Linked DNA regions of Homo sapiens: regions 1 and 3 are each reported to be linked to region 2. The links are microRNA targets in miRTarBase. Many come from high-throughput screens and were not tested one by one. Region 2 holds a microRNA gene; each other region holds the end of a gene's coding sequence.
The links. The annotated mature microRNA hsa-miR-6733-5p reads UGGGAAAGACAAACUCAGAGUU and lies in region 2 at 5,296-5,317, shown strand. An mRNA with a match to its seed (bases 2 to 7 or 8) in the 3' UTR can be bound and repressed. Matches are read on the target gene's strand: a 7mer-m8 pairs with bases 2 to 8, a 7mer-A1 pairs with bases 2 to 7 and ends in A, and an 8mer does both.

Region 1 (7,631 bases), not on the chromosome of region 2:
ACCTCTGTGGCTTTGTAGAGCTTTCCAGTGGCAAGGCTACATCTGCCTTCCATTTCCATTCCTGCCTCTAACCATCTGTCCTTCCAATTCTTCCAAAAATGGCTTCAGTCAGAAAAATAGCTCATTTGACATCCGGCCTTCCGGTTTGCTTCTCCTAGCTAAAACTCGTTTCTCCCTGAACACTAGACTGCAAACTTCCTCTTCCTGACAGGACCTAGGCCTTTTTAAATGTGGACTCCAGCGCCTAGAACAGTTCCTGGCATCCAGCAATCACTTTATATTCATTCAAAGGGTGACTGACCCTGTTTCCCTTAATGGTTACTGAATCACTGAATACAATTCACTTTTCTGTATTGTTTTATATTCTGTCTCGCAATATTACTACGACTGATCTGATTTCTTCTTCTCTCCCTCCCTTCAGTCCTCCCTCCCTCCTTCCCTCCCCTCCCTTCCTCCCTTCCTTGGGATCTCCCTACTGAAACTGATTTATAAATTTTCCCCAGAGTGAAACCCATTTCTAAAACAGTACTTTGGGTAAGGTTCTAAATTATAAAATATTCAAACATCCTAGTTCTGTATCAACTTTTTTTAATTTTTTTTTTTTGAGACAGATTCTTGTTCTGTCACCAGACTGGAGTGCAGTGGTGTGATCTCGGATCACTGCAACCTCCGCCTCCTGGGTTCAAGCGATTCTCCTGCCTCAGCCTCCTGAGTGGCTAGGACTACAGGCGCGCGCCACCACACCCAGCTAATTTTTGTATTTTTAGTGGAGACAGGGTTTCAGCATGTTGGCCAGGATGGTCTCGATCTCTTGACCTTGTGATTCGCCCGCCTCGGCCTCCCAAAGTGCTAGGATTACAGGCGTGAGCCACTGTGCCTGGCCTTTCTTTTTTTGGTTTTTGAGACAGAGTCTTGCTCTGTTGCCCAGGCTGGAGTGAAATGGCGCGATCTTGGCTCATTGCAACCTCCGCCTCCTGGGTTCAAGCAATCATCCTGCCTCAGTCTCCCAAGTGGCTGGCATTATAGGCGCCTGCCACCACACCCGGCTAATTTTATTTTTATTTTTTTATTTTTAGTAGAGACGGGGTTTCGCCATGTTTGCCAGGCTGGTCTCCTGACCTCAGGTGATCCACCTGCCTCGGCCTCCCATATGCTGGGATTAAAGATGCGAGCCACCACACCCAGCCTATATCAACTTTTATGAGGTTAATGCAAATTCATCTTGTCTACATTACCTGAGGTCAGCAGTTCGAGACCAGCCCAGCCAACATGGCAAAACCCCGTCTCTACTAAAAATACAAAATTAGCCAGATGCAATGGCGGGTGCCTGTGGTCCCAGCTACTCAGGAGGCTGAGGCAGGAGAATCACTTGAACCTGGGAGGAGGAGGTTGCAGTGAGCCGAGATCACGCCACTGCACTCCCATCTGGGCGACAGAGACTCCATCTCAAAAAAAAAAAAAAAAAAAAAGAAGTTAAACACAAAAAGCCACATGTTGCATGATTCAATTTATAGGAAACATAGAGAACAGGTGAATCCATAGGGGCAAAAAAGCAGAAAACAGGGACTGCAAGGTGTCGGGGATAGGGAGTAACTAATTTATGGACACAGGTTTCCTTTTGGAGTGATGAAAATGTCTTCTGGAACTAGACAGAAGTGATGGTTATACAGCACTGTGAATGTTATCAAATGTTACTAATGATAAATTTTGTTACGAGAATTATACCACATCAAATATATAGTACCTGACATACAAGCATTCTAAAAACTTTACATTTTTTTAATAGCAAAATGAGCAAAACTATCTCTCAAACAGGAAATCACCTAAGTATATTATTAAATACATTTTTAGGCCAGGCGTGATGGCTCACCCCTGTAATCCCAGCACTTTCGGAGGCCGAGGAGGGTGAATCACTTGAGGTCAGGAGCTCAAGACCAACTTGGCCAAGATAGTGAAACCCCGTCTCTACTAAAAATACAAAAATTAGCTGGGCATGGTGGCAGGCACCTGTAATCCCAGCTACTTGGGAGGCTGAGGCATGAGAATTGCCTGAACCTGGGAGGCAGAGGCTGCAGTGAGCCAAGATCACTCCACTCCACTCCAGCCTGGGCAGCAGAGTGAGACTCATCTCAAAAAAAAAAAAAAATTTTTTTTTTAAATCACTGGAATGGTATGCAGCCTTTGAAGAGCATGAACACGATCTACAAGTACTCACATGGAAAAATGTGACATAGCAATAAAAAGCTTCAGATCAGCATATATGGTATGACTTATGTTAAGTCATGTTAAAACACACATGCTTACTGTAATCCCAGTACTTTTGGGGGCTGATGGGGGAGGATTGCTTAAGGACAGGAGTTTGAGGCCAGCCTGGGCAACATTACAAGACCCCATCTCCACAAAAATAATAAAAAAAAAAATAGCCAGGCTTGGTGGTGCACGCCTACTATTCCCACCTACTCAGGAGACTGAGGCGGGAAGGACCACCAGAGCCCAGGAGTCTGAGGCTGCAGTGAGCCATGATGGTGCCACTGTACTCAAGCCTGGGCAACAGAGTGAGATCCTGTCTCTAAACAAAAACAAAAACAAAAAACAAAAAACAAAACAAAATAGGTCGGGCTTGGTGGCTCACCCCTATAATCCCACCACTTTGGGAGGCCAAGGCGGGTGGATCACCTGAGGTCCAGAGTTCGAGACCAGCCTGGCCAACATGGTGAAACTCCGTCTCTACTAAAAATACAAAATTAGCTGGGCGTGGTGGTGCATGCCTGTAATCCCAGCTACTCGGGAGGCTGAGGCAAGAGAATCACTTGAACCCAGGAGGCGGAGGTTGCAGTGAGCTGAGATTGCACCACTGCACTGCAGCCTGGGCGACAGAGCAAGGCTCTGTCTCATACAAATAAATAAATACAAACAAAATAAAATAAAATACACATGTTCATGCACAGATATGTGCCTAGAAAATGACTGGAAGGATAATACAAGAAAAATGCGAACAGTGGTTATCTCTGGCATGAATAGCATAGAGGGGCAGGTAACGTCCCCCCCTGCCCTTTTTTTTTAAACTTCATACCCTTTTATATTGATTTTGTGTGTGTACAATATATAGCACTTTGAGGTTTTTCAATGATAAGTTCAGAGTTAACAGTGTGACATGGCAGTCAAAAAATTCAAATCTGCTCCTAGATGGCATTACTAGAAATACACAATCTAGAACATGGGAGGTAATTACCAGATTTCAGAATTAAAATGTATTGGCTTTATAACCCTTACGAGGAGTCAAATTTGTCACTTTCTCAGTGTAACAATTACTCAGTGTCCGAGTGGTTTCTGCACATGGTCAAAGGGACAAGGTAAGTTCTACTTCACAGGGTGCAGAGCACACCGGAAGTGGTCACCAAATATTTGCTGAGTGTTCTGAGTCCCAAATACCGTCTAAGGCAAACGATGTTTTAAGCTTTTGTTTAGCCTTTCTCCTTAACTTGTTTAAGAATGTTTTAAAAAATTCAATTAATAGGCTGGGCGCGGTGGCTCATGCCTGTAATCCCAGCACTTTGGGAGGCCGAGGCAGGCGGATCACTTGAGGTCAGGAGTTCGAGACCAGCCTGGCCAACATGGTGAAACTCCGTCTCTACTCAAAATACAAAAATTAGCCAGTCGTGGTGGCGGGTGTCTGTAGTCCCAGCTACTCAGGAGGCTGAGGCAGGTGAATCACTTGATCCCGGGAGGTGGAGGTTGCAGTGAACCAAGATTGTGCCACTGCACTCCAGCCTGGGTGAGAGTGATTGACTCTGCCTCAAAAAACAAAACAAAAAAAAAAAAAAGAAAAAGAAAATGAAAAAAATTCAATTAATAGAGGAGCACAAGATAATATTAAAGAAAACCCATCCACAAGCCTGAACTCTTAAAAAAAATCATTTTATTGATCCTTTACCATACAAAATTTATTCAAATTACACCCATTTGAAGTGGTAAGATCACAGCTAGAGAACAGGTCACCCTGTAACAAATCTATTTACAAAATCCATCATAAAAGCTTTTTTTTGTTTTTTTTTACATTATATTACATATTTTCTTTTTTAAACTAGCATACAACACAAAGCTAAACTGATTAGTAGTTTGCCTACTCCCAATTTTGGGAGAAATACTTCCTTTTTACAAAATCACGTACCCCGTAGGAAAAGAAATTCCCACACCCTGACAATTGCCACCCGACTTACTCTGCAAGCCATCTTCCTTCATATCCCTCCTTCTCATACACACGAGTTGTCATGCACACACTGAATTCTTATTTTCTTTTTCCTGAAAGCTTAAGCTTTAAATACTGCAATTTTATTTACAGATCTACACGTACAACAAAAATGAAAACAAGAGCCACAACAAAGAACAGAAAAACAAAAACAAAATAACACTCTTAAAAAATTACAAAGCAGCTAGAAAGTATTCTGGCAGTGTTTACAAATTAATTGCTATTTTTGTACAAAATTGCTAAATAATGAAAATGTGAGTAGACTACATATCAACTTAAATAAAACGATTGCTATGCACAACTCTGTACATATAAACACACTCCTAACACTGTTTGACAGCTCATGTGTTGCCCTTTATACATTTTATTTTCTAAGGCTCACGCAGTCATAATTTGCACACTTGTAACTTTTAGCCATTTCGTGTGTGAGCTTTAATAGCAGCAACTCAATGGTACCAGGAAACCTGCATACTTAGTACTTAAAGTAACGCAAATACTGTAGTACTAACCCACTTTGTGTGCCGGATACTAAGTCAAAAAGAAAATTACTTAATGCAAACAAAATACAGTATGGACATCTAATTAATGTACACCAGTTAAACCCAGTAACTGGAAAAAAATCTTATGCATGAAGGAACTTTTAAGACTTATTAGTATTCCTTTCATTTTAAAAACAATAAATACGGCATTACATTATGAAAAAATTCAACAAAACACACAACAATCTAGCCAGGTGAGCTCAGTCTTTAGACTTTGGAAAAAATCAGCTTTGTGCAGCTGGCAAAGAGAATTACACAAAGCTGGAAGCAGAGGCAGCTAACCAGATGAGATAAATATGGGAAATGGGGAAAAGCTTGGCATAAATGGTTTCCCATACAGGAAAAAACCCCACAGTGCATTTCCAGTAGGCACTTAACACAAAGCTCCCTCTCCCTCCCCCACCCCAATGCTTCATCTAGGACCACACCGACATTTTGTACCAAGTCCAGTGTGTGTGAGGGGAGGAGGCCAGGGATGGAGGCTGAAGAAGAAAAAAAGGAAGATAGTCTGCACCTTTGTTTTTCTTCCCAAACATACACCCACGCATACCCACACAAAGAGTTTAAAGTGCTGGTGTCATCTGTCTTGACCCCACCACCACTTTGCATATTGTGGAAATCTACCTGGAGTAAACTGGCTGGGGCTCTTGTGGTTTTTTGTGTGTTTTTTTTTTTTCCTAAGGGATATTTTCAATTCAATTAAACATATGAGTTGAGTGCCTACTATGTGCCTACCATTGGGTCAGGCACATAGCATTTCAATTTAACTGTTCGTTTCGAGGTTTGTTCTTTATCTGACTCCCTCATTCCCGCAGTCCTTAGCATCCAAGGAATGGACCGGAGATACTACGCCATATTCCCAGTGGGAGATGGCCGCTGCCACCTGCCCGAGGGAAAGCCATTCTTGGACATAACTGGTAGGATTTGCAGCTGACACAAAGCCTCCAACTTGGGACACCATTCCTGAAGAGTAAAGCGGGAGACACCCTGGCATTGTTTTGCTTCATTTTTTACGTCCCCGACTTCCCTTGGTCCAACTTATTCCTTCATAGAGGAAGGGGAACGGGGTCTGGCCAGAACTATTCCAGCCCCCGACACAGGGCTGCTCCCTGTTCCTGCCAGCTTAAGGAAATGCCACTCACACAATGGGGATGTCTTTCTCCCTAGAGGTCTCTCCATCTGACCCCATCCTGAGAAGTGGTCTCCCTGAGTGCGGTGTAAGAGAGCCCTTTCCCCTGTCACAGGGGCCCGGGAAGCCCAAGGATGGAGGGACCCATGCCTGCTGCTCCTTGGGGCTGTTACATCATCTGACCTGGTTCTCCTTTCCAATGGGCCACCCATGTCAGCAAGCCCCAGGACTGACTCGCTCCAAGCTCCCCCTCCTGGGAATGGAAGCACGATGGGACAAAGCTCCTTGCAGAGGCTGATAAACCTTAGATCACACAGGTTTAGATGCTCTGATCAGTAGAGGTTCTCTCCCTCTGCTTAAGTAATATGAATTTGCAAAAACCGCTTCAAAGTAAACAATTAAATTGAAATGGTGATGGGTGCCACAGGAATGCTTAAATGGCAGCTAAAAAAATTAAAAGTCTAGAACAATCCACAAAGAACTAAGTAGGCATTTGCTACAAATCAACTGGAAACTCACAAACACATTGGGGACGGGGGAATGGGAGTGGTTCATGGAGACAGGAAAATCCACAACAGCTTAGAGTGGCAGAACTCTACTAGTCTTCTGTATCTGCAACAAGTATATTTGAAAACAGGTTCTTCATCCAGAAGGCTGTGGAGGTTTTCTTGACCTCCTACTGGGACACACAGTTCATAGCTTAAACTGAATTATGACAGTAATTTAAATATTCCTAAGAAGAGCTGAAGAAATCCATTTCATACTTTTGCATGACTTCAAGTTTGCATTTGCTGCAGTTCCATTCCATATTAGCAGACCTCAAAGACATGCATTCTGCGGAGAAGGCACGGCTTGAAATGCTATTAAGGAAGATTGCTGTTTCCCAGCAGGCCAGGTGGCCAGACCCCATTCTACAGCCCATCCGTCAGGCACAGCAAGCCAATCCGGGGAGGAAGGAGGAAGGACAATTCGGGGTGAGAGACACCTGATTGCACATTTTCTCACTTGCTGACTTAGCCAGGAGATCTTGGAGCCTGGAGCAAAGCAGGGCTTTCCCAAGGGAGCCTGCAACTGTGCGTTTAGACAATTTGTTTATTAATTTTTTAAAAAATTCATTAAAATGTCAGCTTTCTTCTGAAGTTTGTAGTTTACTTCATGATACTCTCTTGGAGGAAGAAGGTAGGAAGGGACAACACTGCATGACAGATGTTCTGGTTCCATGATAAAAAAATATCGGTTTTTAAGGAGAGTTCACACGAAGCATAATCAACTACACATGAAGTCTTCCACCAGTGGGAGCTTTTCCAAATCGTAAGCATCGAAGAGATCGCTGATGCCTTCCTCCTCCCCGAGGCTCAGGAGATAGTCCTCTTGCAGCAGGGGAGGCAGTAAGTTCACAAACGGTCCTTCTAGGTTGGAAGGAATTTGGTCCTCAGTCTGCTGTAAGAGGTTGGCTGGGGAGGCCAGAGGAGAAAGGTTTCCCATAGAAACTGAGCAATCGCTATGTCCTGAGTTGGTTGAAGCCAAGTCTGAAAAGAAAACATTGATGGAAACAAAAAATAAGTTAGAAAAATCAAATGAATTTTTCTGGAAGAATGTATATGTTGCTGTTAGAAAAAAGCATGTACCTTCCGCAAATAATGACAATGAGACGACTTTATGATGCAGATCACCTTTTATGCTAACAGGTACAAAAAAGTTCCTTGCCACCCCC
Region 2 (8,337 bases):
TTTGCCTCCCCTCTTGCTCCTCACCCCCCGGTTCTTACCACTCCAGCCACACTGGCCTCCCAGCTATTCCTCCAACACAATAAGCACCCTCCTAACTCTGAGCCTTTGCTAGTCTCTCGGCTACTCCCCCTGCCCTCCCACATCAGCACAGCCAGCTCCTTCCTTTCCTTCAGTCTTCACTCAAAAATCACTGCTCAGTGAGCCCTCCCCAGCCTCCCTATCTACAACTTCTTACTCCCCCAACGGCTTCACTTTCCATGCTTTGTTTGTTCTTATTAGCATCTATCACTATCTAGCATGTAGACTGTACTTCTTTTTATTTTGTTTGTCACTCTCCCCTCTTAGAATGGAAGCACTGTGAGGACAGCATTTTATGTGCATATGTGCGTGTCTATTTTGTGCCTGGAACACAGGGGGTACTTAATACATTTTTGTTGAGTGAACAAATGAATATGTTGAGCCTCATCATGACTCTGAGCTGAACAAGCTGAGCATCATCTGCATCTTACAGATGAGGAGACTGAGGCTCTGTGAGCCTATAAAATGGGGAGCCAGATCAAAGCCAGGTCTCCCAATGTCATGACCTTTATATTTTTCCCTTCACCGGTAATACCCTTAGACTTGGTCAGTGGAGATCCTCCCTTGGGCCTCAAATTTTAGAGCATCCCGGAGTCTTTCTCTGGCTGTACCCCTTACCATTAAGTGGGATACAGTGGCTGCCTGGAGTTTGTCCTGCCTCTTCTAGATCACGTTGCAGGTACCCAGGACTCTGGAGTTCCCTGCTCAGATAGTCTTGAGCCTGCTGACAAGACCAACATTGGGGGTTTCTTCCCAGGCTGTCTCTACTCAACCTGGGCCTGAAGGATGGGCACAGGGTGGTTGCTTATAGAATATATGGGTAGAATTTGAACATATGGGCTGCAAGGATCCACCCACATGTGTACAAGGCCCCTGGTGATATAAGATGGAGTTAGGAGCAGAAGAGAAGTGATACAGTAAGAAGTGTAAGAATATGAGCACAATAACTGAAAGTAAAATCTCAATGGATACATTAAACATTAAGTTAGATGCAGCAGAAAAGAGAAGCAATGAACTACGAGATACATCTAAAGTAATTATCTAGAATGCAACACAGAGAGAGTAAGGTATAAAAAATCCAAATAAGAGTTCAAAAAAAAAAAAACCCAAAAACATGAACGTCAGGTGTGGTGGCTTGCACCTGTAATCCCAGCTACTTGGGAGGCTGAGGTGGGAGGATGAGTTGAGTTCAGGAGTTCAAGACCAGCCTCAGCAACATAGCCAGACCCCATCTCCATAAAAACAATTAGCTGGTCAAGGTGGTGCATGCCTGTATTCCCAGCTATTCAGGAGGTTAAGGTGGGGAGGATGGCTTGAGCCCAGGAGTTTGAGACTGCTGTGAGCTATGATTGTGCCAGTGCACTCCAGCCTGGGCAACAGAGTGAGACCTGGTTTCTTAAAAAATAAATAAATAAAATAAAATAAAATAAAAAACTGGAAGGATGGAGTTGAGATGGTTTGGAGTTCCAGAAGGAGATAACAGAACAAAAAAGATACCTGTCCTTAGATCCAGGAATCTCAAATAATCCCTAGGAGGATAAAAAATGAAAATAAAAACTATACTGATGTGTGTGTCTGTATCTATATGTATGTATATATACTATGTATATATACATGTACATATAGTATATGGTGTGTGTATATATGGTGTGTATTTTATACGTATATATGTATATGGTGTATGTGTATAGATACATACACACACACACCATAGACAGAGAAGATATTAAACATCCAGAAAAAAAGATCATCTACAGAAAGACGATGCTGATAGCTAATTTCTTAACCACAGCAACAAAAGAGAAGCCAAAAAAACACAATGGAATATGATCTATAATATGCTGATAAAAATTTCACACCTGTTGAAACTATCTTTCAGAAATGAGGATAAAATAAAGTCATTTTCAGACAAAAACTGGGAGAATTTATTAATACATTATCAGTAAATGCAGAAGGAAAATGATCCCAGCTGGAATATCTGATTTGTAAAGAGTAATGGTGGGAAAAAGTTTGGTAAGTATGAGAGCAAATATAAATTAATGTTGTCTGTAGAAAACCATAATTTAATTTATATTGGAAAGTCATATGATCTTTTTTATTTTTGTTTTTGAGACAGGGTCTGGCTTGGTTTCCCAGGCTGGAGTGCAGTGGTGCGATCTTGGCTCACCACAACCTCTGCCTCCCGGGTTCAAGCAATTCTCCTGCTTCAGCCTCCCGAGTAGCTGGGACTACAGGCACGTGCCACCACGCCCAGCTGATTTTTGTATTTTTAGTAGAGACGGGGTTTCACTATGTTGGCGAGGATGGTCTTGATCTCTTGACCTCGTGATCTGCCCACCTTGGCCTCCCAAAGTGCTGGAATTACAGGCATGAGCCACCACACCTGGCCAGATGTCCATTTTTATTGCCCCTAATCAACACTGTCTGGAGGTGCTTACCAGCACAGGTAACACAAGAAAAAGGAAGAAAGTCATCGTTATTTGTAGATAACATGATAGTCTATGTAGAAGTCTCTGCATAATCTATAGACAAATCATTAGAATTAATAATAATTTAGCAAATATGCTGGAAATAAACATCAATAAATTAAAGTCAACTGTATTTAATACAGCTTATTCCAACAGAATATTATGTGGTTGATAAATTTGACTTTATTAAAACTAATAATTTTTGTCCATCAAAAGATACTTGTAAGATGGGAGAAAAATGCCCCAAACTGAAAGAAATTATTTGCAAGACATATATATATATCTGACAAATTATTGATATACAGAATATATAAATTGTGCATGTAAATCAATAAAATTGCCCAAAAATATCCTGCACAACAAACTGTAAAAAACAAGTAAAAGACTTGAACAAGGCATTTAACATACGACTAAATAGGAATAGCCCATAAACAGATACTCATCATCATTAATGATAGCAAAATGCAAACGAAAACCACAATTCCTTTTCTCAACCATTGGGTTAGCAAAAAATTACGAAGTTGGACAATACCAAGGGTTGGCAGGGTTGCTGAGGAATAAGAACTCTTATGCACTTCTAGTGGGAGTGTAAATTGGTACTATCATATTGCTCAGTAATTTTAGTCCTGGCTGTGTGCCCTAGAGAATCTGCACAAATAGATGAATGTATATGCATGCAAGAATGTTTATAGTAGTATAGTTTGTAATAGCAAATGATTGTTATTTCCCAAATGTCCCTCAATATTAGAGTGAATACATATATTTGAGACATTATATTCATATGATGGAACACTACATAGCAATAAAATGAACTTGGCTATATGTATCGAGATGTGTGAATCTCAAAAGCATGACATTGAACTGATGCAGCAAGACACAGAATACAGGGAGAAGCACTAGAACTGGTAATATTCTGTTTCCTATGCTGGGTGGCTGGGTTCACAGATCTACATTCTATTGTAATTCTTTAAATATGACATATATGTAGGGTACATTCTTTTGTATGTATATGTCACAATAAAAGGTGTCAATGCAACAAAGAATGGGAAAATGGATTCGGTTGTTGAAATAATGAATATCATTAACAGGACCACTGTGAACAAAAATAAGGGCTGTAATGCTATACAAATGGTTATTTGCGACTTGGGATAAAGTTTACAGTGTCTTCATCATACTTGGATTCAAACGGTGATATAATGAAGGTGGTGTGCTCAGGAAAACTGTTAGACAACTCAAAAAGTGGCTCTGGTGATGACAAAGGCAGTGATATTGAAGACACCAAAAGAGGGGTTCTTAACATATTTTCATGAAATTACAGTGAAAAAAGTACTTTTAAATTAACATTTTATATGTGATTTTAACTACATATGCGTGACTGATTAATCTAGTTTCATAATACAAGTCGCCATTTATTTCCTCTACATTTATAATACTGCATATATATTCAAATTGGCCAAAATCTTTCTTTCCAATCATCATGCTGGGATTATGGGGTTATATGTGGCACATACCATTCCTGTATATGTCAGGATGGAAAAAGTTTTACCTGGAATGAATTTTTGCCATTTCTGATCCACATTGTACTTCACACAGTGATTTCCTGAAGGAAATATAATGATCTGTTCATCGAAGTAGAAGATATTGTTGGCCACGTGGGATCGAAGACCAAAAACATGCAGCGTCTGAGCTACCACGGCTGACATGATCTCCCGCCAAACAGTTCTGCTGAAGACCAAGGCAGCGCTTCAGAGTGGAGAGCACCGCCCCGCTCCGACCCCGCCCCCGGCCCGGACTCGCCCTCCCCGCCCTTTGCTCCTCCCCTTGTCTCTCCCCTTTCTCCTCCCCTTGTCCCTCCCCTTTCCCCTCCCCTTGTCCCTCCCCTTTCCCCTCCCCCGGGGTCCTCCTCCGCGCCACCCCACCCCCGCGGCTCCTTTTTCTGCCTTTTCCTTTGTACCCTCACTGCTACCAGCTCCTTCTGGCGACCCCCAGGTACCCCCTCCCACCTTTCGTTTCTCTCTGGGTCAGCAGACCACGCATGTATCCAGAGGCGCTACCTGTAGGGATCCTAAGCAACCCGGACACTTTCAAACGCCGTAGCGGTTCCTATAGCAACGACAAACCGGAAGTATGGTTTGCCGCCGGAAGCGGAAGTCCCAATCAAAAGTTGAGCAGTAGCTGTGAGTTGCTGGCGCTGGAGCGATTCGGTGGCACGTGGAGCCACGGCGTGGGAGTAGGGGGCTGAAGGCAGGCAGCAGCGGCCAGGGCCGCCCTCTGCTAGCCGCTTGGGTCTCGGGATACCCCGTTTCTTCCTGTAGGTGTGGGACGTGCGTGCGGCGAGATGGACACTCCCCCGCTCTCGGATTCGGAGTCGGAATCCGATGAATCCCTTGTCACAGACAGAGAGGTAGGTGTCAGCCGAGCTCGTGGGGCTGGGCGTGGGAGAGGGGGCCTTACACCCCTGGGAGTGACCGTGATTGTGTCCTGCAGTTGCAGGATGCGTTTTCCCGAGGGCTTCTGAAGCCAGGCCTCAATGTCGTGCTAGAGGGGCCGAAGAAGGCCGTGAACGACGTGGTGAGCGTGGGCACAGGGTCGGGGGTACTCGGACATGGGATGCGCTTCAGGCGCTGTTGGGCTTGGGAGACCGATTCTTGTCCCAGGAAAGATGCACCCTGCGCCTCGCCAAGAGGGTCAATTACCTGTCTGGGTATTGGGGATTAGCACTTTGTCCCTTCGCCTAACAGCCTGTGCTTGGGAAAGACAAACTCAGAGTTCCCTTCTTGTGAGCTCAGTGTCTGGATTTCCTAGAATGGCCTGAAGCAATGTTTGGCAGAATTCAAGCGGGATCTGGAATGGGTTGAAAGGCTCGATGTGACACTGGGTCCGGTACCGGAGATCGGTGGATCTGAGGCGCCAGCACCTCAGAACAAGGACCAGAAAGCTGTTGATCCAGAAGACGACTTCCAGCGAGAGATGAGTTTGTATGTTTGTTTTCAAATGTTGGAGAAGTTGAGGATCCTTGTGCAGGAGAGTGGGAAAGAGGGGAAATTAGTAAGTCTGCACTCAGAATAAGCCTAGGAGTAGAGAGAGCGGCTTCTTTTGACTAAGAATAGCTAGGAGATTCTTCCTGTTTGAGAGAAGAGCTCTTTGGTCCACGGTCACGATCCAAAATCCACTTTATGGGCTAATTTGAAATATTCATGTTAAAACTTTTTGTGCATGCTTCAGTTATTAGGAAAACAAACAAACAAACATTGCTTATGGGATGTTCTTGTGTGGAATTGCTTTAGTAATTACATAAGAATCCATAATCGACATTCGTTTGTGTTAATGGGTACCTTTAGAGTAGTCATTCTCTTAAACTATTTTTAGCAACACCCCTCCCCTTTTTAAAAACTAGTATACGGCTACATTTCTTTTAGATACTAAATCAGTGAGACAGTTTTTGTTTGTTTGTTCTTGCTAATGGAGGTCAGATTTTGAGAGTCCTTCTGAGCTTGGATAACTCATGATTGGCGGTGAAAAGGAACGTAAGGCCTCCTCCTTCACCTCATTACACATTTTGTCCTACGATTCTCAGCTATCGCCAAGCCCAGGCCGCAGTGCTTGCAGTCTTACCCCGCCTCCATCAGCTCAAAGTCCCTACGAAGCGACCCACTGATTATTTTGCGGAAATGGCCAAATCTGATCTGCAGATGCAGAAGGTAAGAAATAGAAGTTTTCCTCTGGAAAGTCAAAACTTTGTACTTAAGCATATTCAGCTGGCTTAGAAAGATAGCTATGAGCCCAATAACGGGGAGCCAGTTGTCAGAGGACAATTATTACCTCTTCCATAGATTGGCTACTTCAGAGTCATGCCAGTTACCACCAATTAGATGCATATAAAAATGACATTTTTTCTAAAATCAGCAATTAAGGAGAGGAACAGTGCTGTGTGAAGTGTGGTCCCCGAGGTGAAGATGGCCCAGTGCATTTCCTAGCTGGCATGGTCATGACATGGTGTGCAGAGAGGACAGCATTCTTGTGCCCTTGCCACTGTCAGTGCTAGAACTTGTAGACAATTACTTTTCTCTGGGCCTCAGTTTTCTCCTCTGTAAAATGAGGGATTCTTAGATGGTTCAGATATAGTACAATTTAGAGTTGGGTAGAACTTGGACCTCATTTAACTTTGGAAGAAGGGATTGCCAGCATGTAATCCAACATACATTCAGCCCTCCATAGCCATGGGTTCAGCATCTGTGGATTCAACCAACCTTGGATCAAAAATATTGGGGAAAAAAATTTGAAAATATTGCAAAAGGAAAACTGAATTTTCCGTGTGCCGAGAACTACATTGAATCCATGAGAATGAGGTGATGCATAGCATTGTATTCGGTATTATAAGTAATCTAGAGACTATTTAAAGAAGCGGTCTGGCACTAGAGACTAGTTTCGTGGATGACAATTTTTTCATGAACTTGGGGAGGGGATAGTTTTGGGATGAAACCGTTCCATCTCAGATCATCAGGCATTAGATTCTCATAAGGAGCAGGCAACCTAGATCCTTTGCATGCATAGTTCCATGCATAGTTCACAGTAGAGTTCGCACTCCTATGAGAATTTAACGCCACCACCAATCTGACAGGAGGTGGAGCTCAGGTGGTAATGCTTGCTTGCCTGTCACTCACTTTCTGCTGTGCGGCCTGGTTCCTAACAGGCCACAGATTCATAGTGGGTTCGTAGCGGTCTGTGGCCTGGGAGTTGAGGTCCTCTGACTTTAAAGGATACTGGAGGCGAGTGTAGGTTATATGCAAATGCTGCACCATTTTTATATAAAGGACTTGAGCATCTGTGGATTTTGATATCTGTAGTGGGTCCTAGAACTAATCCTCTATGGATACTGAGGGATAAGTATATTTAAATAGTACCCTGGGGTCTCAAGCTGGATTTTAGGGAGCTTTTGTCGTGGTAGTAGTTCACCTTCTTACTGTGAACTCTGTACAAATTCTCACTGACAACTTCTCATCCTTTAACTAAAATGTGTATGTTTGACTGAAAAGGCTAGGCACCTGGTATCTGCCTGGGTTTTTATTGTGTATGTGGTATACTAGAAAAGGACACTGAGGCCGCATACTGGTTTCCAGCCTCAGTCTACTGACAGTAGAAATGGGGAGAAGTTTGTCTTCTTTCCTGGGCTACAAATAGGCAGTTTGTATAATGAAACAGACAGCACACTGGGAGCGGGAAGGTGACTTTCAATCTCTGGCTTCACTCTGGCACTTTTGGTAAAGTGCTCAGCCTGTGGGCCCCATTGTCCTCAGGGGTTGGAACTGATGATTTATAAGTTCCGCAGTTTAAAGAACAGGGAATATCTGTTCCCTGCTCTAGCGAATCCTAAGTAGTGGTCATTCCAGATTCAAATGACATGAACTGACAGCATTTTGTGTTGTAGATTCGACAGAAGCTGCAGACTAAACAGGCTGCCATGGAGAGGTCTGAAAAAGCTAAGCAACTGCGAGCACTTAGGAAATACGGGAAGAAGGTGAGAAGAAAAGTGTGCAGGGAACAGGAAGAGGCGGAGTGTGTGTTAGATGAGATTGCCGTGGTCTGACTTGGTCCCCTGAACTGAACGGAACTGTGTGTTGATCATGTATTTACCGTCTCTCAGTGTATGTGCTGGTATTCATGAGCACAATCTTGCCTGGACATGAGTGGTTCCCCAGGAGTAGTATGGTGACTGCAGGTGAGCCAATCACCTCTCTGGGCGTTAGTTTTCACATCTGTACACTGGGTCCAGATGAGTGGTTTCCAAACC
Region 3 (7,631 bases), not on the chromosome of region 2:
GGAAAGCTGGGAAACGCGTGTGTGTGTGCTCACTGCAGTGACACAGCATGGCCATATCCGTTTGCTGTGGAGGTGGGGTTGACAGAGGAGAGAACCGAGGCCCAAGAGGTGAAGCAGCTTGTCTGAGGTCACCCCGGGCGACCAGGATGCAGGCCTGCAGATGTGCACTTTGGAGCTCTGCCTGGAGCTGGGGTGGAGGAGCCTGCCTGCTGCCTCGTGCCCTCTGCCGGGCCTGGGGGATGTCCCAGGCCCAGGGCTGGCTGCTGTCCTCCTGCTCCTCTTGCTGGAGTAAGCAGGGCCTGGGGTTTGTTAGCAGCAGCGGCAGCAGCAGGAGCAAGGCTAGGAGGCTGGAAACAAGCCACATCCCAAAATAGCTCTGATAACCATGGGGCAGGAGGGCCCAGCCAAGCCTCAGCCCTGACAAGCACAGCCTGCAGCTGGCCTCCCTCCCCACTGGGCCTGGGCTCAGTCCCTGGTTTCCACTGATGGCCTGTAAGGCCCACTCACTCTAGGCTTTGTGGCCCACCTGAGAAGTGGGAGGCTGGCCTGGGAGATGGGACCCTGTGACTCAGAACCCGAGGCTGTGTACAGCCCCCGTGGCTGGAGGTGGTCACAGAGGCCTGGCAGGATAGGTGCACTGGAGCAGGGGGAGGTGGCGGGAGTGGACGGCAGAGGTTGCTGCAGGCTGGCAGGAGGCCCCTGGGACCTCAGTTCTGTGCCAGGATCTGTCGGGGAATACCAGGGGTGAGCAAGTATGGAGATGGGGTGGCAGGGTGTCACCCTGGGCAGGCTCTTTTATGGGCATGTGAGGGGGTCAGGGTGGGGTCTCAAGACCTTTCCTCCAGAAACTTCAGCCCAGCAGCGCCCGTTCTTGAATCCTGGGGTTGGCCATGAGCAGGTGGGACAGAAATAGCAACAGCTGGAGACGTGTGACCTTGAAACCGGGGCACTCTGCTTGGTGGGGAGCTGCTGGAGCCTCCTTAAGGTGGTTGGGGTGGGGAGCCAGGTTCTGATGCCCCCCCCGCCCCCCCACCCCCCCCAATCCCCCGCCCCCCCACTCCCCCCACTCCCCCCCACTCCCCCCCCACTCCACTCCCCCCCACTCCCCCCCCACTCCCCCCCACTCCCCCCACTCCCCCCACTCCCCCCACTCCAGGCTATAAGCGGGACCACCTGTCCTTCAGGTTCTGCGAGACGCTGCACCTAGTGGGCTGCTGCCAGCTGCCCACTGTCCGCACCCACTGCTGCCGCTCGTGCTCTCCGCCCAGCCACGGCGCCCGCTCCCGAGGCCATCAGCGGGTTGCCTGCCACTGACCGTGCCAGGATGCACAGACCGACCAACAGACCTCAGTGCCCACCATGGGCTGTGGCGGAGCTCCTGCCCCCTACGCCCTACGCCCTACGCCCTAATGGTGCTAACCCCCTCTCACTATCCAGCGGCAGGCTGGGGACCTCCTCCCCCCTCAAAAAAAGTATTTTTTTATTCTAACAGTTTGTGTAACATTTATTATGATTTTACATAAATGAGCATCTACCATTCCAAAGCACAGCATGACTTCATCTTGGATTTGGAGAATCTTAAAAGTGAGAAACTCTTCCCCCCACTCCTCTGCCCAAAACTCCACCGCCACAGCACCTCGGCAGGCGCGGCTTTTCACCTGCTCCTCTGGGGCAGATCTGCAGGGTACAGAGCAGCAAACAAGTCCGTGAGAGCATGGCGTCTGGTGAGGCACGGGCCTTGGAAGCTGGGGGGCTGCTGCCCAGGGAGGGCTATCTGCGGAGGGTCGGGTTCTGGGGGCAGGAAGGTCTTCCGGGCAGGGGCACAGCTTGGCCCTTACTTGCTGCCTGCCTCTAGCTCGGCTCCCAGCTTTCCCTGGGGCCCCACTCTGTGGTCCTCAGAGACCTGTTCCACAGGGATTGGGCCCACCTTGTCACTTGCAGGACTGCCCCTTGGAGTGATGGGGACTGGGGCCCCCAGGGGCACCTCCCTGGGCCTGTTGTATCTGTTGACTCTTCTGCAAAAAGTAGACAGAGAAGAGAGCAGGCTGGCCCGCTGTGCTCTACTGTGTCTGTCCCAGGACTCGGAAGGTAGGGAGGGAGCGTGGCCAGGGCGGCTGCCTGCAGGTGCGTGTCCTGCTGCTCCCCAACTCAACATGCTCACCTCATTTCACACCAACAAGCCCCATCCTCAGAGGAGGAGCCCAAGGCTCTGAGAGGAAGTAACTGGCCCAAGGGCACATGCCCTGGTGACACAGGCCCATCCTAGGCCCTGACTGCCCACCTCCAAGTTCCAGGCCACCCTGAGCAGGCCCCAGTGGCAGCTTTGCACAGAGAGGGCAGCCTGCCAGAGTTCACACAGGAAAGCAAGTTGCTGGGCAAGCTAGAGTGAGTCCCAGCCCCGCTGTGCTGCCCGAGGGTAGAGGAGCGTCAGGCGTGCTTCCTGTCTGTCTGCAGCAGCCCGGCTGGCCCAAAGAGACTCTAGGGACCCAAGCTCTGAGTCATGGCTTCCCAGGCCTTAGTCAGAACGGCCCCTGGTGGCACTCCCTTCCAAGGGGTGGGGAGCAGGGCCTGTCGACTTGCTCCTGACCCACACACGGAGCCAGTCCCTGTCCCAGCTCTGCCCCAGCTCTGCCGCCGCCGCTCTGCTGCGTGACTCCAGGAACCCCCAGCCTCGCTGAATCCATGTCCGCAGAAGAGAAAAGCCTGCCAGGCCTTGGCCTGCCCTGTCTGGGAATCCTTGCTGGAGCCACCCCGAAACACCCCTATGGGAACCCCTTTGGTCTTTATCATTCTTGGGTGTTTTCCACTGATGACTGCGGGTGTGCCCAGTGGCAGCTGGGCCTGAGCTGTCAGCCCAGGCAGGAGACAAACAAGCCTGTGACTCAGGCAGGGCATGGCACAGCTGGCGGAAGGAGGCATGCCTGTTCTTTGTGGCTGGGCGGGGGGTTATCCGGACACAGGGAGTCTCCAGCTTCCGGCTTTCCCACCTCGGTGCCCCCAGCCCACACCTGCAGCTTGGCCATGGTTCTTGGGGCCTCCCAAGGCTGCCCCTGCTGGCAAAGGCATCCTGATGCACCCGCCCCAGGGTGAGCCAAGGGCAGAGACACCCAGAAACGCCAGGCTGGAAGGTTGGAGAGCCCCTCCTCGCCCCCCGCAACACCAATAAGCCCTGCCCCACCCTCCAAGCCCTTGGGGTGAGCCCCATCACCAGTGACTATAACTGAATTTCAATGCAGAATATTATACAAATTAGTAGTTTATTTCTTCCTTTAGTATTACAGTTCCAAAACGTAACTTGAAGGTCAGCACAGGAGCTGCTGTGATATAAAAGGAGAGAGTCACCTGGCGCCCCCTGCAGTCCTCCAGTTGCCCAGCAGCAGTGGGACGTTCAGTGGCACACAGTGGGTCTCTGTATGGCCTCCCACCTGCAAGGACTTCCCCGGGCAGGCCCAGCTGCCCAGAAGCCCCGGAACACACAGGAAGACAACACTATAGGATGGCAGGTGGGGATCTGTGCAATACAAACATGTAGCTAGAAAACCCAACCGAGGATCTGTCTAGAATACTTCCGATATCAATATACCGTAGTTGAAACCAGAACCGTCTCCAGCTGTCAGCAGTCTTGGCGGCTACTGTACAGCTGTCAGCATGACTACAGGCAGCGCCCGAGGCTATCTGGGGTAAGAAGTGGGCCTGCACATCACATCGGTGAGTCAGTGAGAGTCAGGGCCAGAGGGAAAAGCAACTCGGAGGCTGAGGCTGGCACAGATACACACAAGGGAGTCACACACATAACATAATAACTTGTTATATAAAATAGATATGTGGAATCTAGAAACACCTTGAGAAAATAGCCTATAAAAATATAAACTGTAGTGAGAGTGTACAAAAGTATTAACAGAGGTTCAACCCATAAAAAACCCCATCCATTTAAAAGTTGGCAATTCCTAGCAGGTGTTGGGAGGGAGCTCCCCTCGGTCCTGGTGCGCACGTTTGGACAGGCCTTTGGGTTTCCCAGCTGGCAGGGTCCCCCTTGCAGGGGCCACGGGCTGGGTGTTGGGGTGAAGGTTCAGAGGAGGAACAGCAGCTTGGGGCAGCCCCTGTCAGAAGGGCCCCCTGCCATGGCAGCCAGTGGAGGCCAGGGACCTTCAGGGCACTGGAGGGGACAGAGCAGCTCTTTCCTCAGTGACCCGAGGGAGGGGAAGTGTTAGCGCAAAAGAGTGGGGCCCACAGTCCTGGAAGGAGGAGTTGGCTCCGTCCCGTTCCCAAACTTTAACCAGGCGGAGCCGCCCTCTCTTGCCTTCTGGACACGCATCACTTGATTCCAGGCAGGAGAACCTCTGAGAAAGTGTCCCCAGTCCCTTTCCTCCAGGAACTCTCCTGCTGTCGCACACACACACTGCCCGGCAGCTGCTGACAACTGCCTGGAAACACTAACATACCACCGTGGGTTGCAGCCACGACGGGCCCCTGGTCAGGTGCATCTCTCAGGGCAAACTGGACAACACGAGCCTGTCCCTAAAGGCAGCTCTTAGCCCCAGGACATGGCAGTGTGTGCTGGCATGTTCCAGGGGCCATTGGCTCGGAAAGTAAAACCTCAGGGCCCAGCCCCATTCCTGCTGCACCTCCTCAGCAGCCGCCCCCCAGGCTGACAGCTGTCGTTTCACGATGGGCTGAGGGGTGGGGGGGGTTCCAACACTTGATTCGAGCAGACTGCAACGCCCAGCTCACAGGACAACTGAAGGAGTCAGACCTCAAACTGCTGCTCTCAAAGACAAAGACAATGACAAAACCCATTTTTGATGCCTGAAAAGAGGCAAAGGCTTCTGGCTAAATATAGAGGCCAGCTCCGTCTACCCAGTGAAACATTAGTGGAGTTGGTTAAAGACACGAAGCCGGAGCTCACTCTAGCATGTGCTGAAACACCAACTTTGCCGTGGCATTGCCAAAAAGTTGACAGCAAAAAATAGGAAAAATACTTCTTAAAACTGCATTGCTTCAATTCTTAGTCTCAGTGTGTTCACAACAAAGGATGATTTCCAGTTTTTTTCGGGTAATATGAAACATTCCACTGAGATCATTTATCTTGTATTTTCATAACACTGTGCCAGAAAACATCCTCTCACATCTACGCATCAGGGATGGTCTAGAGCGATTAAGCAAAAACAAGCTCCTTGCTCAAAGCCTCTCCCCAGCCTTCAGAAAGGCAGTCCTCTGAGTTCCCAGAAACTGCTGTGTCAGAGGCAACAGTGCCCCTGCATCCTGGCAGAGAACAAGGATGTTCCAGGCAGTGGTGGGGTGGGCACACATCTGGGAGAGCTCACCCAAGCCTGCCCCAAGCAAAAAAGTTTCCCAGCCCCAGGCACTGGCAGCCGGCCTCCTGCACAACCCAGGCAGGTGGAGACACCAGGAGCACTGGCCATCCCCAAGGAGGCCATGGTTTTCAGCTGTCCAAGAGCGTTCACGCTGCGGCTGCACCACTGCCCTGCAAAGCACCCCCGAAAACATTCCTCCATCCCCTCAACCAAGGCCAGCCCAGGCGTGGGCCTGCTTTGCAATATGACGGTCCACTGTTTACTTGGAATCCCATCCCATCGTACTTGGTGAATGATTTCCACAAGTCAAGAAGGGCATTCCACAGAATCTCACAGAGCCATGCCTGGCACGGGGCAAGCTGGGGACAGAGCAGCCCAGTGATCTGCAAACACAGGCTGGCCATGAGAAGTGAGGGTGGGTGTCTGGGCAGCCAGGCCCTCCCCATGCAGGCTGGAAGACACTGATGGAAGGGTTGCGTGTGGAAGAGCAAAGGCTATTCTAGAAATGGGGCATGGCTGGCAGCTTAAAGCCACTGGTGGGAGGTTCACAGGCTTTCCTACAGTGGCCATTTCTGAACAAGGGATGTGCCTGCTTTTCTAAGGCAGCCCCTTTTCATACCAACCTTATGCCTGAGGCAGCAACCCTCTGGCCTACAGGTGCCTAAAGCACAGCTGGCATCCTTTATAGCACTGCCATTCAAAACCACACACCACTGCCCACTATGTACAGGAGAGAGAATATGGGGAGATGCCCAGCAAAGCAAGGTTTCAGAGGGTCAGAGCACCGACAGGCTGACGGAGGCTGGAAACAGGCTCTTGCAAATAGCCACTGGTAAGCCTGAGGATCCACCAACCAGGCAGAAAGCGTGACTGAGATACGTGTAACCAAAAGCATGGCACGGAAATGGTTGTAAACAGATTAGACCTCCCACCCCTGCCCCCCGCACAGTGGGAAATGAGGAAGGGCAGCCTGGCTTGGGACATCTGCCCAGCAGATCCCCAGAGGACACACACGTTACATTCTGGCTTTTAAGTGCACTTTCACCCTTTGGGCACACTTTGGTTGTGAAGGAAGGAAGAGCAGCATCCCGAGCCCACTCAGGTATCCTCCTCCTCGTCACTGACCAGCTCACCCTTGTCAGGGCTGGTGTCCCGCTCACGCAGGAAGTCCTCACGGATGGCCTCCAGCTCGGTCAGCTCCAGCCGGACTTTCTCCAAGTGGTAGGCGCGTCGGTTCCGGATCTGGCGTAGGGGGAAAGGGTTCAGGTCCCCAAAGGAGATACTGATCAGCTTCCTGGCAGGACGCAGGGGAGAGACAAGAGAATCAGCGGCGCTCCAGAGAGTGCTCACACACAGCCCTCACAGGCATAGCAGGTGGCCTGGGGCAGGGTGGGAAGAGCGCTGGCCAGGCTTGGGGCCTGATGTAGGGGATGAGGCCCACCTTCTGTAGAGAGGTGACAAAGCACAATGGCCCAGCCAGGGGCAGGCTCAGAATGACGACCTGGACTCCAGCTCTGCCACATGCTTGCTGTGTGACTGAAGTCACCCCCCTTTTCTGGCCTCTGATCTTCATCTGCACACTGGGGTAAGAGTAGTGCCACCTCCTAGGGTGTGGGATTACTCGTGTTCCCACACATAAGCCCTGAGAAGAGCTCCCGGCACTTGCATGGTGATGGCAGGTATGTCTTCATCCTTGGGCGGGCATGAGGCCTGGCACCGGGCACGAGTCCGGGACGTCTGTGTCCCAGGACTCATTGACTGGGAATGAACACAGGCCCAGGCAGTCCTGGCGATGACTGTCAGACCCAGTTGGCAATGTGACAAGTGTCCAGATGCAGTCTACAGAGAAATGTGCAGCTTGTGGGTTTCACATCCCCAGGTCAAGGCTCCAATTTTCAATAAAAATGTTAAGGTTATGATCCACTTGCTCCTAACCACTGGTCAGTGGCTTAATAAAAACAAGACCAAAAGCTGTCCTGAGGCCTGGCTATGGATTTGTAGCACTAATGGGTCAGCCACACTGGTCTCTGGGGATCACAAAATAGGCCAGTTCCTAGGGCCACCTTCTTCCCCTCTCTGGATTCTGCCAGGCCCCAAATGCTTTGTATCCACCAACATGGGCTCATGCGCTTCCCTGTCAACCAAAGGCCCAACAGACTCACCAGCCCCAGGAAAAGCTGTGATGAAACAGAAATGCCCCGAAGGACTTCCTGCCTGTCCCCATCAGAGCAGGCCATTTGCTCCTGCTGCCGTCGGCTGCGTGGGCTCCTTTTAACACAAGGCACACACGAGGGTGCAACCTTTTATGTTTCAAAA

Region 1: the mRNA of E2F3 is a reported target of hsa-miR-6733-5p. Seed matches in the 3' UTR shown: 7mer-m8 at 5,680-5,686 and 7mer-A1 at 5,086-5,092.
Region 3: the mRNA of TBC1D2B is a reported target of hsa-miR-6733-5p. Seed matches in the 3' UTR shown: 7mer-A1 at 6,265-6,271.

What each region holds. Positions count from the first base shown.
Region 1 is chr6:20,489,983-20,497,613 of GRCh38, reverse strand. E2F3 (E2F transcription factor 3) reads right to left here. Exons shown (of 7, transcript NM_001949.5): 7 at 3,900-7,446. The coding sequence ends at 7,184. Among named protein-coding and RNA genes, the nearest start is that of CDKAL1, 41 kb to the left of the region's middle.
Region 2 is chr1:43,168,666-43,177,002 of GRCh38, reverse strand. It overlaps MIR6733 (microRNA 6733), which reads left to right and starts at 5,291; the gene lies at 5,291-5,351. It overlaps EBNA1BP2 (EBNA1 binding protein 2), which reads left to right and starts at 4,713. Exons shown (of 9, transcript NM_006824.3): 1 at 4,713-4,950; 2 at 5,034-5,117; 3 at 5,352-5,524; 4 at 6,124-6,247; 5 at 7,975-8,064. The coding sequence starts at 4,885. CFAP57 (cilia and flagella associated protein 57) reads right to left here and starts at 4,673. Exons shown (of 23, transcript NM_001378189.1): 1 at 4,550-4,673; 2 at 4,093-4,268. The coding sequence starts at 4,249. RefSeq lists a silencer at 4,247-4,446 and enhancers at 4,557-4,606, 4,687-4,816, 4,366-5,001, 4,947-5,176, 5,002-5,638.
Region 3 is chr15:77,991,747-77,999,377 of GRCh38, forward strand. It overlaps TBC1D2B (TBC1 domain family member 2B), which reads right to left. Exons shown (of 13, transcript NM_144572.2): 13 at 3,239-6,609. The coding sequence ends at 6,414. LOC91450 (a long non-coding RNA gene) reads right to left here and starts at 2,479. Exons shown (of 1, transcript NR_026998.1): 1 at 1,487-2,479. It also overlaps the pseudogene ADAMTS7P3.